Linked DNA regions of Homo sapiens: region 1 is linked to region 2. The links come from fine-mapping of genetic effects on plasma protein levels. A gene starts in region 2. The other region holds a variant in brackets. All regions are shown on one strand. Distances are from middle to middle. Region 1 overlaps AP4B1 (adaptor related protein complex 4 subunit beta 1). Region 2 holds the start of BCL2L15 (BCL2 like 15).

Evidence for each region. A credible set is the group of variants that fine-mapping cannot tell apart. PIP is the posterior inclusion probability: the model's chance that the variant is causal. The UK Biobank Pharma Proteomics Project read protein levels with antibody pairs (Olink). The fine-mapping took linkage between variants from a reference panel, not from the people measured, so its PIPs are less certain.
Region 1: its variant is the best candidate, but not a certain one, in a credible set for the plasma level of the BCL2L15 protein (UK Biobank, PIP 0.53).

What each region holds. Positions count from the first base shown.
Region 1 is chr1:113,900,323-113,904,734 of GRCh38, forward strand. It overlaps AP4B1 (adaptor related protein complex 4 subunit beta 1), which reads right to left. Exons shown (of 10, transcript NM_001253852.3): 1 at 4,283-4,412; 2 at 2,316-2,540; 3 at 1,433-1,563; 4 at 914-1,061; 5 at 1-78. The coding sequence starts at 4,395. It overlaps AP4B1-AS1 (AP4B1 antisense RNA 1), which reads left to right. Exons shown (of 5, transcript NR_125965.1): 5 at 1-915. It also overlaps a transcript of DCLRE1B not described here. Among named protein-coding and RNA genes, the nearest start is that of AP4B1, 2.3 kb to the right of the region's middle. RefSeq lists enhancers at 4,113-4,172, 4,253-4,412. The variant G/A (reference allele first, on the strand shown) is at 955.
Region 2 is chr1:113,883,459-113,891,824 of GRCh38, forward strand. BCL2L15 (BCL2 like 15) reads right to left here and starts at 4,123. Exons shown (of 4, transcript NM_001010922.3): 1 at 3,791-4,123; 2 at 3,079-3,200. The coding sequence starts at 3,917. The region is part of intron 3 of AP4B1-AS1 (AP4B1 antisense RNA 1); the gene reads left to right.

The DNA.
Region 1 (4,412 bases), 15 kb after region 2:
TCTTCCTCACTGCGGGGTTGGTAGCGTAGCAGAAAGTTCAATACTTCAGCCTGGCCCCATTGGTCCAGTTTTGACATTCTATCCAAAAAACAAAACAAAAGAGCTATTTTAGCAACAAAATTAGGACCATTTCCATGCCACTGCCATATGACCAGGTGGTTGTTCATCATAGCAAAGGGAGAATTCTTAAAAATAGGCTGTGCCATAATTAAGTCACTTTTCATGTACTATTTAAAGTTTACACAAAAAAGGCTTAAAATTCCAAGATGAGTTGTTAATACAAATGCACACTCCTCTAAGACCAAAGACATGATCAGCATACACTGGGTCCAGGTTCCTTACATTTTAAGACACTATAAATGGCTTAGTTTGGGGGACATGACTAGAGAAGGGTAGAACCTATTCCCACAGTATATTTCTATTTCCCTATATCAATAAGGGAAAGTAAGGCAAATAAAAGAAATTCTCTCAGTGGAATGTGAGGGAGTTAATAGTGGTTAACTGGCCGGGCGCAGTGGCTCACGTCTGTAATCCCAGCACTTTGGGAGGCTGAGGCGGGCGGATCACCTGAGGTCAGAAGTTTGGGACCAGCCTGACCAACATGGTGAAACCCTGTCTCTACTAAAAATACAAAATTAGCCGGGCATGGTGGCGCATGCCTATAATCCCAGCTACTCGGGAGGCTGAGGCAGGAGAATTGCTTGAACCCAGGAGGCGGAGGTTGCGGTAAGCCGAGATAGCGCCATTGCACTCCAGCTTAGACAACAAGAGCAAAACTCCGTCTCAAATAATAATAATAATAATGGTTAACTTTCTTTTCTACCCCACATAAGTTGTTCAATACTTTAATACATCAACAAGATCCCACAAGGTAGCAGATCTCATAATAAAAAGAGTGCTGAGGCATCCAAACCGATTTAAGAGATGGTGAGCAATGGGCTTATTGATGACAAC[G/A]CCTCCTTCCTGTTTCAGAATTTCCTCTAGAGACCTCAAGCAGTTCACAACTACAATTGGATCCTGGTCACGCAGCAAACTGTATAATTCATTTACCAGGGCACCATCTATAAAAAAGAACAAAGTTCTTAGATAAAGAAGGAAAGCTTCAGAGTAACAAGGATGTAGCCAGAGTAATAGCTCCAGGTAGACAAAGTTGAACTTCTCTGCTACAAAAATGACAAAGGCCACACTAAAGTGCAAGGCAAAAAAAAAACTGCCATGTCCAGACTGTTCTAAGCAGCTAATACAAAGGATCTCATTGGGGCCCCAGAGAAAGGACTTCTCATCTCCAGAAGATACCAAGCCCTGCATCCTACTTAAAGAGATATGTACAGAACTGGGGCCACATTATTATTTTCTACCAAAGCCACACAATCTTTTTTAAAGTTATACATAATGGAGGCACATTGACCATGATGGATTACACTGAACTTACCTACTTCAGAGTCTCCATGAAGATTATGCATCTTGGCACATCCAAGGACTGCCACTCTCCTGACATATGAAGCCTTATCCCGCAGACCATTGAGAATAGGCTGTTGTATATACTCCTGCACACCAGGCATCCTAAGCAACACATCCTGGAGTTAGCCAGATTCTGAAATACTAATTTTGACATACCTCAGCCCCTGTTCACCTAACAGATGGTTTAGTAGATGCTGCACCCATCAGATCATGAAGAATTGCAGAAAGCCTCTATCAAGCTTAAAAAGCCATAATTTGACTTTTCTGTTTTTTTCTTGTTTTTTTCAAGATGGGGTCTCACTTTGTCACCCAGTGGCCCGATCATAGCTCACTGCTGCCTTGAATTCCCGGGCCCAAGCCATCCTCCTGCCTCAGCCTTCCTAGTAGCTGAGACTACAGGTGCGTGTCACCATGCCCATTTAATTTTTTGTAGATATAGGCTCTCACCATCTTGCCCAGCTGGTCTCAAATTCCTGGGCTCAAGCAATCTTCCTGTCTAAGCCTCCCAAAGTGCTGGGTCTACAGGCATGAGCCACTGTGCCCAGCCTAATTTGACTTTTCATTTGGAATAATGATGCACAGGCAGCAAAAAAAGATATACACATAATTGTTTAGAGATATTTAACCAAAACTGAGGACTATTTTACTTAGAGTGAGAATCAAAAACTCCCTCTAATAAAATTATATGATACAGGTTATTAAGCCAAAGCAGTGGCTGAAAATCTGAGTTCAGGGTACAATAATGTTTTCCCCAGTATTAAGGAGCTCAAATAAATTATCCTCTTTAAAAACCTACCCTGTGATCACTTGAATTCATCAGCCATTTAGGACCAGACAGAGAAGAGGGTACTCACCTGAGGCTACACATGCTCCGTAACGCCAGCCCTCGCACCATTGGATTGGGGTCTGAGCAGTCTTTGCACAGCGTATTGATGGCCAGGAGAGCCAGATCTGGTTTCAGGGGAGCATATGTGCACATGTACAGATAAACCAACTTCTTCTGGACAATATCTACAGTGGCACTGGCCTTCACCATTTCCATAAAAACACCAGACATGTCCAAGCCTTGAGTCATGTACCTGAACAACGCACATGACAGAAGGAAGTAAAATGCAAAATCCCCAACTTACAATGGAGGGAGTTTTACTTACATATCTCCTGATTACCCAACTAGATTGTGATCTCTTAGAGGGTAGCAGCCAGGATTACCTTGTCTATTATATCACACAGTACTTCATACCATAGGCCTACAATAAACATTATTCTTCTATTCATTCAACAAACACTTATTATTATTTTTGAGACAGAGTCTTGCTCTGTTACCCAGGCTAGAGTGCAGTGGCACAATCTCGGCTCATTATAAGCTCCGCTTCCCAGGTTCAAGCGATTCTCCTGCCTCAGCCTCCCGAGTAGCTGGGACTACAGGTGCGTGCCACCACGCCCAGCTAATTTTTGTATTTTTAGTAGAGACGGGGTTTCTCCATGTTGGCCAGGCTGGTCTCGAACTCCTGACTGCAGGTGATCCACCCGCCTTGGCCTCCCAAAGTGCTGGGATTACCAGCGTGAGCCACCGCACCCAGCCTCAACAAACACTTATTGAATCCCTAGTACTTTGGTGAAATTCAACTTTTACATCCAGGGACATGCTCTTGGGACATAATCTTGAAGAAGGTGTGGTCTCAAACCTCTAGGAACTTCAAATCTATTAATGAGCCAGATGAGAATACCGTTAATTACAGTATGATAGATAAGTACTTAAACAGAAGTATTGTACAAGGTGTAGAGGGGATTCAGAGGTCTGACACTGGCAGGAAGTCAGAAAATGTTTCTTCACAGAGGAAGTAATACTTTAGCTGAATGAGCAGGAGCTCACTAGGCAGATGTAATAGCAAGGTAAAGATACATGCTATGAGGTAAGTAGACATGAGCAGGAGCAGCACACATTTTTTTAAGAGTCTGTAGGTAGTTGAATTAACAGCTTGTTCCTTGGGTGCTGTGATAAGTTTGGACTTTATTGTTTCTCAGACTGGTCTCCTACTGGAACCAACTGAAATGTTTATTAAAAATACAGATTCCTGGGTTCCCTCCCACCCTACTGAAATCAGAATCAGTCCCTGGACTGGATGACAAAAAGCACCCCAAGGGATTTTTATGCATAGTAAAGTTTGTGAACCATAGCTGTAGGCAAGAGTTATGTGTTCAGGTATGTATAATGGAAAAATTCTGTCTCAAATGAGGCAAAGTGGCCTACTAGTAAGCTGCTGCAATTGCTTTATTGATGAAGGCCTGGACCAGAACAACAATGCTAATAAACAAGAGAGGATGGATATTTAGAATTATGAATTCAAACCATCTGACATAAGAAGTGAGAGATCAGGTGTCCTCAAGGTTGGCTCCCACGCATAGTCGGCTGCTGGTGGCATTCATCAACACAAATGTAAGCTGAACAGGTTTGAGGAAGACGGAAGAATGTCCGGGCTATTTCGGACATACTTTTGATAAACCACGCACGTGGAAATGCCAAGCAGGCAGTGGGATACGTGGGTCTGAAGCTAAAAAAGGAAGTCTGTACTAGCTATATTATAGATCCAAGAGTCACCAGTAATTGCTCAAGCCCGTGATATGGAGGAAACTACCCAGCTGAGTAAAAGATGCTGCAGAGGGGAGACTGACATGGTACTCCAAAGCAGCAGGACGAAGACCGAACCATATAACTGCCACGTGTGAAAGCTAATTCACCCTTTCAGAGAGACTGGGGCTAGTGAGCCCTGATGGGGATTGCAAAGGGAGCAGTTAGCACGCGAAGGGAGGTAGGTGATACCTAATCACTCGCTGGATGACATTCCGGTAGCGCAGCCTATCAGCTTGAATGTGAGGATTGCACAGAGCCTTCTTCAGCTCCTTCACCACGTCCTCGGAGCCAAGGTACGGCATCTTCCTAAGAGTCACAG
Region 2 (8,366 bases):
GCGACAGCGCAAGACTCCGTCTCAAAAAAAAAAAAAGGCGGGCGGTGGCTCACACCTGTAATCCTAGCACTTTGGGAGGCCAAGGTGGGCGGATTGCCTGAGCTCAGGAGTTCGCGACCAGCCTGAGCAACATGGTAAAACCCCGTCTCTACTAAAATACAAAAAAAAAAAAAAAATTAGCCAGGCGTGGCAGTGTGTGCCTGTAGTCCCAGCTACTCAGGAGGCTGAGGCAGAAGAATTGCTTGAATCCGAGAGGCAGGGGTTGCAGTGAGCGGAGATCGTGCCACTGCACTCCAGCCTGGACAACAGAGTGAGACCCCGTCTCAAAAAATAAAAGAAACCAGAGCTCTCTGGAGAATGGTTGATTTCAGTTTGGGGCTAGGGAAGTATAAGATATTCTGTCAGAAATTAAGGAAGTACTCAAATAATAATAGAGACACATCAAAGAGATGCAGTCTAGAGTGAAAGGACTCCCACTAGCTAAAACTAGGATGATTTGAGCATCTAAATTAATAATGATGTTAACAGATTATAATCCACAGAATAAAGTAGGAATTCATGGGTCCAATGCTGATAAGAAATGAATGCAATGAAATTTTGATGAGATGTGGGATATTTACATAGTTTCAAAGTACCTCTCCATAAAACACTTATTAATTACAAAGGGGAAAAGAGTAACTTTATAGAGGAGAAGCTTTACAGACACCATCTTAAGTGATTAAAGTTAACAACATCAATACTGGTATAAAATGAAATCTTGTGCCAATTGATGCAATGCACTGAGAACACAGCAATACTTCTGTGATATTCCTGCCAAAGGTATATATCCTTAATTTATTCAAGAAGAAACATCAAGCAAACCCCAGTTAAGGGACATTCAACAAGATAGACCATAGTCTTCAAGTGTCAAGGTCATGAAAATCAAGGAAAGACTAAGGAAAAATTCCAGATTGAAGGAAACTAAAGAGAAATCACAACTAAATGCAGTATGTGATTCTGGCCTACAACTTTTTACTATAAATTACATTATCGGGACAAATGGCAAAACTTGAATGAGATCTAAGGATTAGATGATAATGAATCAATGTTAATTTCCTGGTTTTGATGGTTAGATTGTGGTTACATTACAGAATGTTCTTGTTTGAGGGAAGTATAAAAGTATTAGGGGTTGATGAAATATGTCAACTCCTTACTGTCAAATGATTCAAGAGAGAAATTATTTGTACTATCCTTGCAACCTTTCCCTGAGTTTAGGGCTGTTTCAAAATATATTTTTTTTTATTAAAACAAGTTCAAGTCAAATTATTTATTTATTTATTTATGTTTTTTTTTTGGAGACAGAGTCTTGCTCTGTCGCCCAGATTGGAGTACAATGGCACCATCTCGGCTCACTGCAAACTCCCCCTCCCTGTCAAGCAATTCTCCTGTCTCAGCCTCCCAGGTAGCTAGGATTACAGTTGTGTGCCACCATGCCTGGCTAATTTTTGTATTTGTATTTATTTATTTATTTTGAGAGAGGGTCTCGCTCTGTTGCCCAGGTTGGAGTGCAGTGGCGAGATCTCAGTTCACTGCAACCTCCTTCTGCCTCCTGGGTTCAAGCAATTCTCCTACCTCAGCCTCCCGAGTAGCTGGGATTACAGGTGTGTGCCACCATGCCCAACTAATTTTTGTATTATTAGTAGAGATGGGGTTTCACTATGTTGGCCAGGCTGGTCTCAAACTCCTGGCCTCAAGCAGTCCGCCCCTCTCGGCCTCCCAAAGTGCTGGGATTACAGGCATGAGCCACAGCACCCAGCCAAAAAAAAAAATATGTTTAATGAGAAAAAAAGTCAACTCAGCTATCAACTACCTAGGACAGCCTCAGGGCAAGCAACTGGGAGTAACAGGTCCAGCTCTGCCTGAACATAGTGTAGGCACACTGCCCAAGCTGTGTATAGTAGGACGAATAAAGCATAACGGTTAAGAGGGTGGTTCTTTTTTTGAGACAGAGTCTTGCTCTGTCGCCAAGGCTGGAGAACAGTGGTGTGATCTTGGCTCGCTGCAACCTCCACCTCCCGGGTTCAAGCGATTCTCCTGCCTCAGTCTCTCAAGTAGCTGGGATTACAGGCATGGGCCATCACACCCAGCTAAGTTTTGTATTTTTGGTAGAGACAGGGATTCTCCATGTTGGCCAGGCTGGTGTTGAACTCCTCACATCAAGTGATCCGCCCGGCTAATTTTTGTATTTTTAGGTAGAGACGGGGTTTCACCATTTTGGCCATGCTGGTCTGGAACTCCTGACCTCAGGTGATCCGCCCAGATGGGCCAGGCGCGGTGGCTCACCCCTGTAGTCCCAGGTACTTGGGAGGCTGAGGCAGGAGAATTGCTTGAACCCGGTGGGTGGAGGTTGCAGTGAGCCGAGATCGCGCCACTGCACTCCAGCCTGGGTGTGACAGAGTGAGACTCCATCTCAAAAAAAAAAAGCATAGGCTGGGTGTGGTAGCTCACGCCTATAATCCCAGCACTTTGGGAGGCCGAGGTGAGTGGATCACCTGAGCTTAGGCATTCAAGACCAGCCCGGGCAACATGGCAAAAACCCATCTTTACTAAAAATAAAAAAATAAAAAAAATAGATGGGCATGGTAGCACTTGCCTGAAGTCCCAGCTACTCAGGAGGCTGCAGTGGGAGGATCGCTTGAGCCCAGGAGGTGGAGGCTGCAGTGAGCTGAGATCACACCACTGCACTTGAGCCTGGGTGACACAGTAAGACCCTGTCTGAAAAAAAAAAAAAAAAAAAAGATACTATACTTTGCCAAGAATAAAGTGTTATAAATGTGCTCTGTGCACACTAAGCACAACAGCTGTGATGAAGACCAAGTAGAGACAAACTGAAGGTTCATCAGCCTATGCCCAAAATTTTCCATCTCTGTACCACTTAGGTTTTAGCAATTGGAGAATTCTTGCTATACTTCCTTGAAATATAAGCACCCAAATATTTTCATAGAACATTCCTAGTCACTGTAGTATGGGAGTAGTAAGAAAAGGAAGTTTGAAATAGAAAAAAAAGCAGCAAACAATAGCATGAAGTAGAAACTTGACCTGTCCCTTAATGGTTTCTGCAATGACGTTTTTGGCAGAAGCTTCCAATTCTCCGTTGAACTGGTCACCCAACATCCGAAGGCGACCAGCAATGATAGCCACATCAAAAGAACAAGGCTCTCCTATGACAGAGGGAACACATTTGTTACAATGCTTGAAGCAATGGCAAGTCCCAGGAATCTGGGCAATGAGAAAAATTTGTCTTGTCTTTTAAATAATTTTCATATCATGATCTCCCAAGAGCTTAAATGTTCTGTCAACACCAATAGTCAGAAAGTTTCCCTTCATTGAGAACCTCTTTCGCTTTAGGTGTTACTGAAAGCTTAGAGTTTGCCTTTTGAAACTTAAAGGAAATAAATAAAATATACTGTTTTTTTTTTTTTGAGACCGAGTCTCTGTCGCCCAGACTGGAGTGCAGTGGCGTGATCTCAGCTCACTGCAACCTCCGCCTCCCAGGTTCAAGCAATTCTCATGCCTCAGTCTCCCATGTAGCTGGGACTGCAGGCATGAGCCACCACACCTGGCTAATTTTTCTACTTTTAGTAGAGATGGGGTTTCACCACGTTGGCCAGGCGGATCTCAAACCCCTGACTTCAGGTGATCCACCCACCTTGGCCTCCCAAAGTGCTGGGATTACGGGAATCAGTCACTGCGCCCGGCTGAAAACATACTCTTATTGACCTGCAATCACCGCCTAGGGCAGGAACCTTACCTGAATCTACTTCATCTACACAGCATAGGTTCCGGCTGGCAACCTGCAATGTTGGGCTCAAGAAGTCCATGAGTAGAGTGTTCACAATGCATTCCGTTTGTTCCTCAAAAGTTTGGGAGCTCTTCATTTTAGATGTTTGCTGTCAAGTTTTGCTTTTCCACGAAACAAGCAGTTTTCAGCCCAGCAGGAAGTTAAAAACACTGGTAAATCAACAAATGTTTCTACCTCTTGTAGTTTCCTGACATGTAATCCTGGAACTTTTCCCACTAGCTTTCTTCAAACACAGCTGCTCAGAAAGGTGGGACTTCTCAGAAGGATTACCTACTTGGAACTGGGGAGACTTTAAAGACTTTAGGTTCTCTATCTCAGACCACACCCTAACCACATAAAATTAATGCTTAACTTTTATCGTTAGGTAGCCAACCTAGAACTGAAATAGAGTTCAGGAAGAGCCTCTGGAGTAATTTTATTAAGAAATACTTCCTCGACTTCTTAGGTCCTGCACATGGTATAATTTGAAGGAAGGTTTTGAAGTTACAGTGGACCAGCGTTCAACTTCTGTTTATGGAATTTATTTGCCATAATCATATAATAATTACTTACTGAACAAGGAACTATAGTTGGCACTACAAGTAACATAGAAAAATGATACAGGCACAGTTACTGTGCTCATGAAGCTTACACTTCAGCAGAAATGACAGATATTAAATGAGTAATCGCATTGTTATTTGTGCTATTGAGATCAGTGCACTTTGATCAGTGAAGTGTAACAGGGAATCAAGCCTTTGATCAGTTTAATAGGGAAACAAACCTAGGGGACTGGGAAGGCTTCCTTAAAATAGTACCATCTGACATGAGCTCTGAGGAATAAGTAGGCATTCATTATGCAAAAAGGAGGCATAACACTATTCTAGGCGGAGAGGTAGCAGATATAAAGTCTGGGAAGGTTAAAAAAAAACAACTTGGAATTATAAATGGGGACAACAGAAAATATTTCATAGATAAATTATGAGGATTAAATAAGATAACATGCGGAATGGCCTAGCACTGTTTGGCATACAATAAATGTTAAATGTCCTCCTTTTAGCCCAAGACATAATGACCAGGAGGAAAGAGATCTGAGATTCTCTGTCTAGCAAAAGGATTTTCCTAACAGGGTTGGACTCCATCATTGTTTTAAGAGATCTCATGATTGGACACTTATCTGTAGTGGTTGCCTTCTTAACGTAGCTAAACCTAGATTTTGGGTCTGGGTCTCAGAAGCAGCCATCAAACCTATCAGCAAACTTACCACTCAACCTGTCTGACCTGGTGAAGTTATTAATATTAACAGCTCCAACTAATAAAAGAGTCAAGCATAGGCCGGGCATGGTGGCTCATACCTGTAATCCCAGCACTTTTGGGAGGCTGAGGCGGGCAGATAACCGGAGGTCAGGAGTTCACGACCAGCCTGGCCAACATGGCAAAACCCATCTCTACTAAAAAATACAAAAATGAACTGGGCGTGGTGGTGCATGCCTGTAATCCCAGCTACTAAGGAGGCTGAGGCATGAGAATCGCTTGAACCTGGGAGGCGGAGGTTGCGATGAGTCGATATTACGCCACTGCACTCCAGCCTGGGTGACAGAGCAAGACTCTGTCTCCAAAAAAAAAAAAAACAAAAAAAGATTCAAGCATAAACAGTAAGTCAGTTGTTCAGAATGGAATTTCTATCTTGCAAAATATCAAAGCCAATCTTGTGTTTTCTGTTCCATTCTAAAACACATACAACCACTGCACACCTATTAAAATGGCCAAAATCCAGAACACTGGCAAAACCAAATGCTGGTGAGGATGTGGGTCAGGAACTGTCATTCATTGCTGGTAGGAATGCAAAATGGTACAGCCACTTTGGAAGAGTTTAGCAGTTTCTCACAAAACTAAACATCCTCTTACCATATGATTTAGCAATTATACTCCTTGGTATCTACCCAAAGGAGCTGAAAACTTATCTACACAAAAACTTGCACATGGTTGTTTATAGCAGCTTTATTCATAACTGCCCAAACTTGGAAGCAACCAATATGTCCTTCAGTAGGTAAATGAATAAATAAACTGTGATACATACAGACAATAGACATTATTTAGTGCTAAAAAGAAATGAGCTGGCTGGGCGCGGTGGCTCACGCCTGTAATTCCAGCTACTCAGGAGGCTGAGGCAGGAGAATTGCTTGAACCTGGGAGGCGGAGTTTGCAGTGAGCTGAGAGGGCACCATGGCACTCCAACCTGGGTGACAGAGCAAGACTGTGTCTCAAAAAAAAAGATCAGGCCATGAAAAGATGAGGAGGAATTTGGGTGGTAATTGGACTTTGGGTAATAATTGATGAGGTAAGTTCATCAGTTACAACAAATTGTACCACTTTGATTGAGGATGTTGATAACAGAGAAGACTATGCTTGTGTTGGGGCAGAGGGTATATGGGAAATCTCTGTACCTTTGTTTCAATTTTGCTTTGAACCTAAAACTGCTCTTAAAAAGTCTTAATTTTTAAAAATGATCATAAATTGCTTTTGGAGTAAGAACACAAATTATGTTCCCATGTAGCTAAAGTGCTATTTTCATTTGTCATTATCTGTCGCTCATTCTCTCTAGAGGCAAAAGGGCTGAAACCTCATTATTACTAAGTAGGCTTCAGACTTTTAACATCAGAAGGGCGGGCACTCAGAGAAAATTCTAGGCTAACCTCCTTTCACATTAGAGCTAGCCACTGACAGTTGAAGGATTCTAAAAAATACATTTGTGACATACTCCCAAAACAATATATAAAAAATAAAAATATTTATGAGACCATCCAGCTGGTATTAAATAGCTTGCCCAAGTTCACACATCAGTAAGTGGCAGAATATAAATTTTAAACCAAGTCTGTCTTACATTAAACTCAAGCTTTTCCCACAGTAATAAACCACGTTCCTCATTTCACTATCAATACGCTTATGCCATCTTTGAAATCGAATTTTGAGTCCAGGGGTGGTAGCACGCACCTATAGTCCCAGCTACTCAGGAGGCTGAAGCAGGAGGATCACTTGAGCCCAGATCAAGGCTTCACTGAGCCATGATCACACCACTGCACTCCAGCCTGGATGACAAAATGAGACTCTGTCTCAAAAAAAAAAAAAAAAAAAAAAATCTAATTTCAACTCCTTTGCATTGTCTTGTATAATCAATGTTGTAAAGCTATAGAAACAGAGTACAGGCTGTCATTAGCAATGTGGAGTAAATTTTTTCCAAGTTTGTTTACTTCTTCTGGGCCTTCAATATAGCACCCTCCAAAACTATCCCTTTCCCTCAGCCCACATACCTTCACCCTTGCAGTTGTAATATTGTGCTCTTAATTATTACTGAAAAATCACGAGGCCAGAATTTTTTCACCGTCACTTGTTTCTCTTGCCACCCTCTGACCACAACAAATTACATCCCTCCCCAAAATGCTTTGTCTCATATCATTGGCTTAAAGTCCAGGATCTTGTCATCTGTACCAGATGTGCATGTGGATGAAGATCCTTGAGTGTAACTCCTCTCAACATGGAGACTTGTAACTAAGAAAACAAGTAATGTGTCCCCTCTCCCCTAAACATCCCATATCTAAGAAAGGAATAGAATACTTTTAACAGAACGCCTGTTCAAAAATAGGGGTAATGGAAACACATCACAGTCACTGATTCATAACTATAAAATGATGGTAATATGCAAATTATTGCCTCTGCAGTGTTCCAAAACACTATTGTCTTTGTGGAACCTCATTACATACGTAACATACTGTTTACCTGTCAACTAAGAATGACATTAGATGGCTGCTGTTCTAAGAGCACAGTATAGACTACCTTCATGGATTGTAAAATATAAACATCTACTTATATCACATCATCAAACCCCATGTCTGCAGAAGCTATACAGAGTTCCTAGCAGGGGAAATATTAAAGAATTAACTTCATAGTATACCTGAGCTTTAGTCATTTTGCTTATAAATTAGTAAAACCAGGCTACAGGAGAAATCAGTTCTTCATTGAGATAATCTTAAAAGTATATTTTCCAAAAGCAACAATTTCATATTCTATGTATTCCTCTTACATTATAGAAAAGCAACCAAGTAGAACATAGTCTTCTAAAAGCTCCAATAGTTGGGATCACTTTAGTATTATTATTTATTCAGTTGCTTAGTCATACCTAATTTTCTTTAGATCAACATTTCAGTTATAGTCTTTAATTTTAAAAAGTCAATAAGTTTACTCAATTTCTACCACCTGCATCCTGTTCCCTTGCTACGCCTTTTTTTTTTTTTTTTTTTTTTGAGATGGAGTCTCACTCCGCCACCTGGGCTGGAGTGCAGTGGCACAATCTCGGCTCACTGCAGCCTCCGCCTCCCAAGTTCAAGCGATTCTCCTGCCTCAGCCTCTCGAGTAGCTGGGATTACAGGTACCCGCCACTACACCCAGCTAATTCTTTGTATTTTTAGTGGAGACGGGGTTTCACCATGTTGGCCGGCTGGTCTCAAACTCCTCAACTTGTGATCCACCCGCCTCAGCCTCCCAAAGTGCT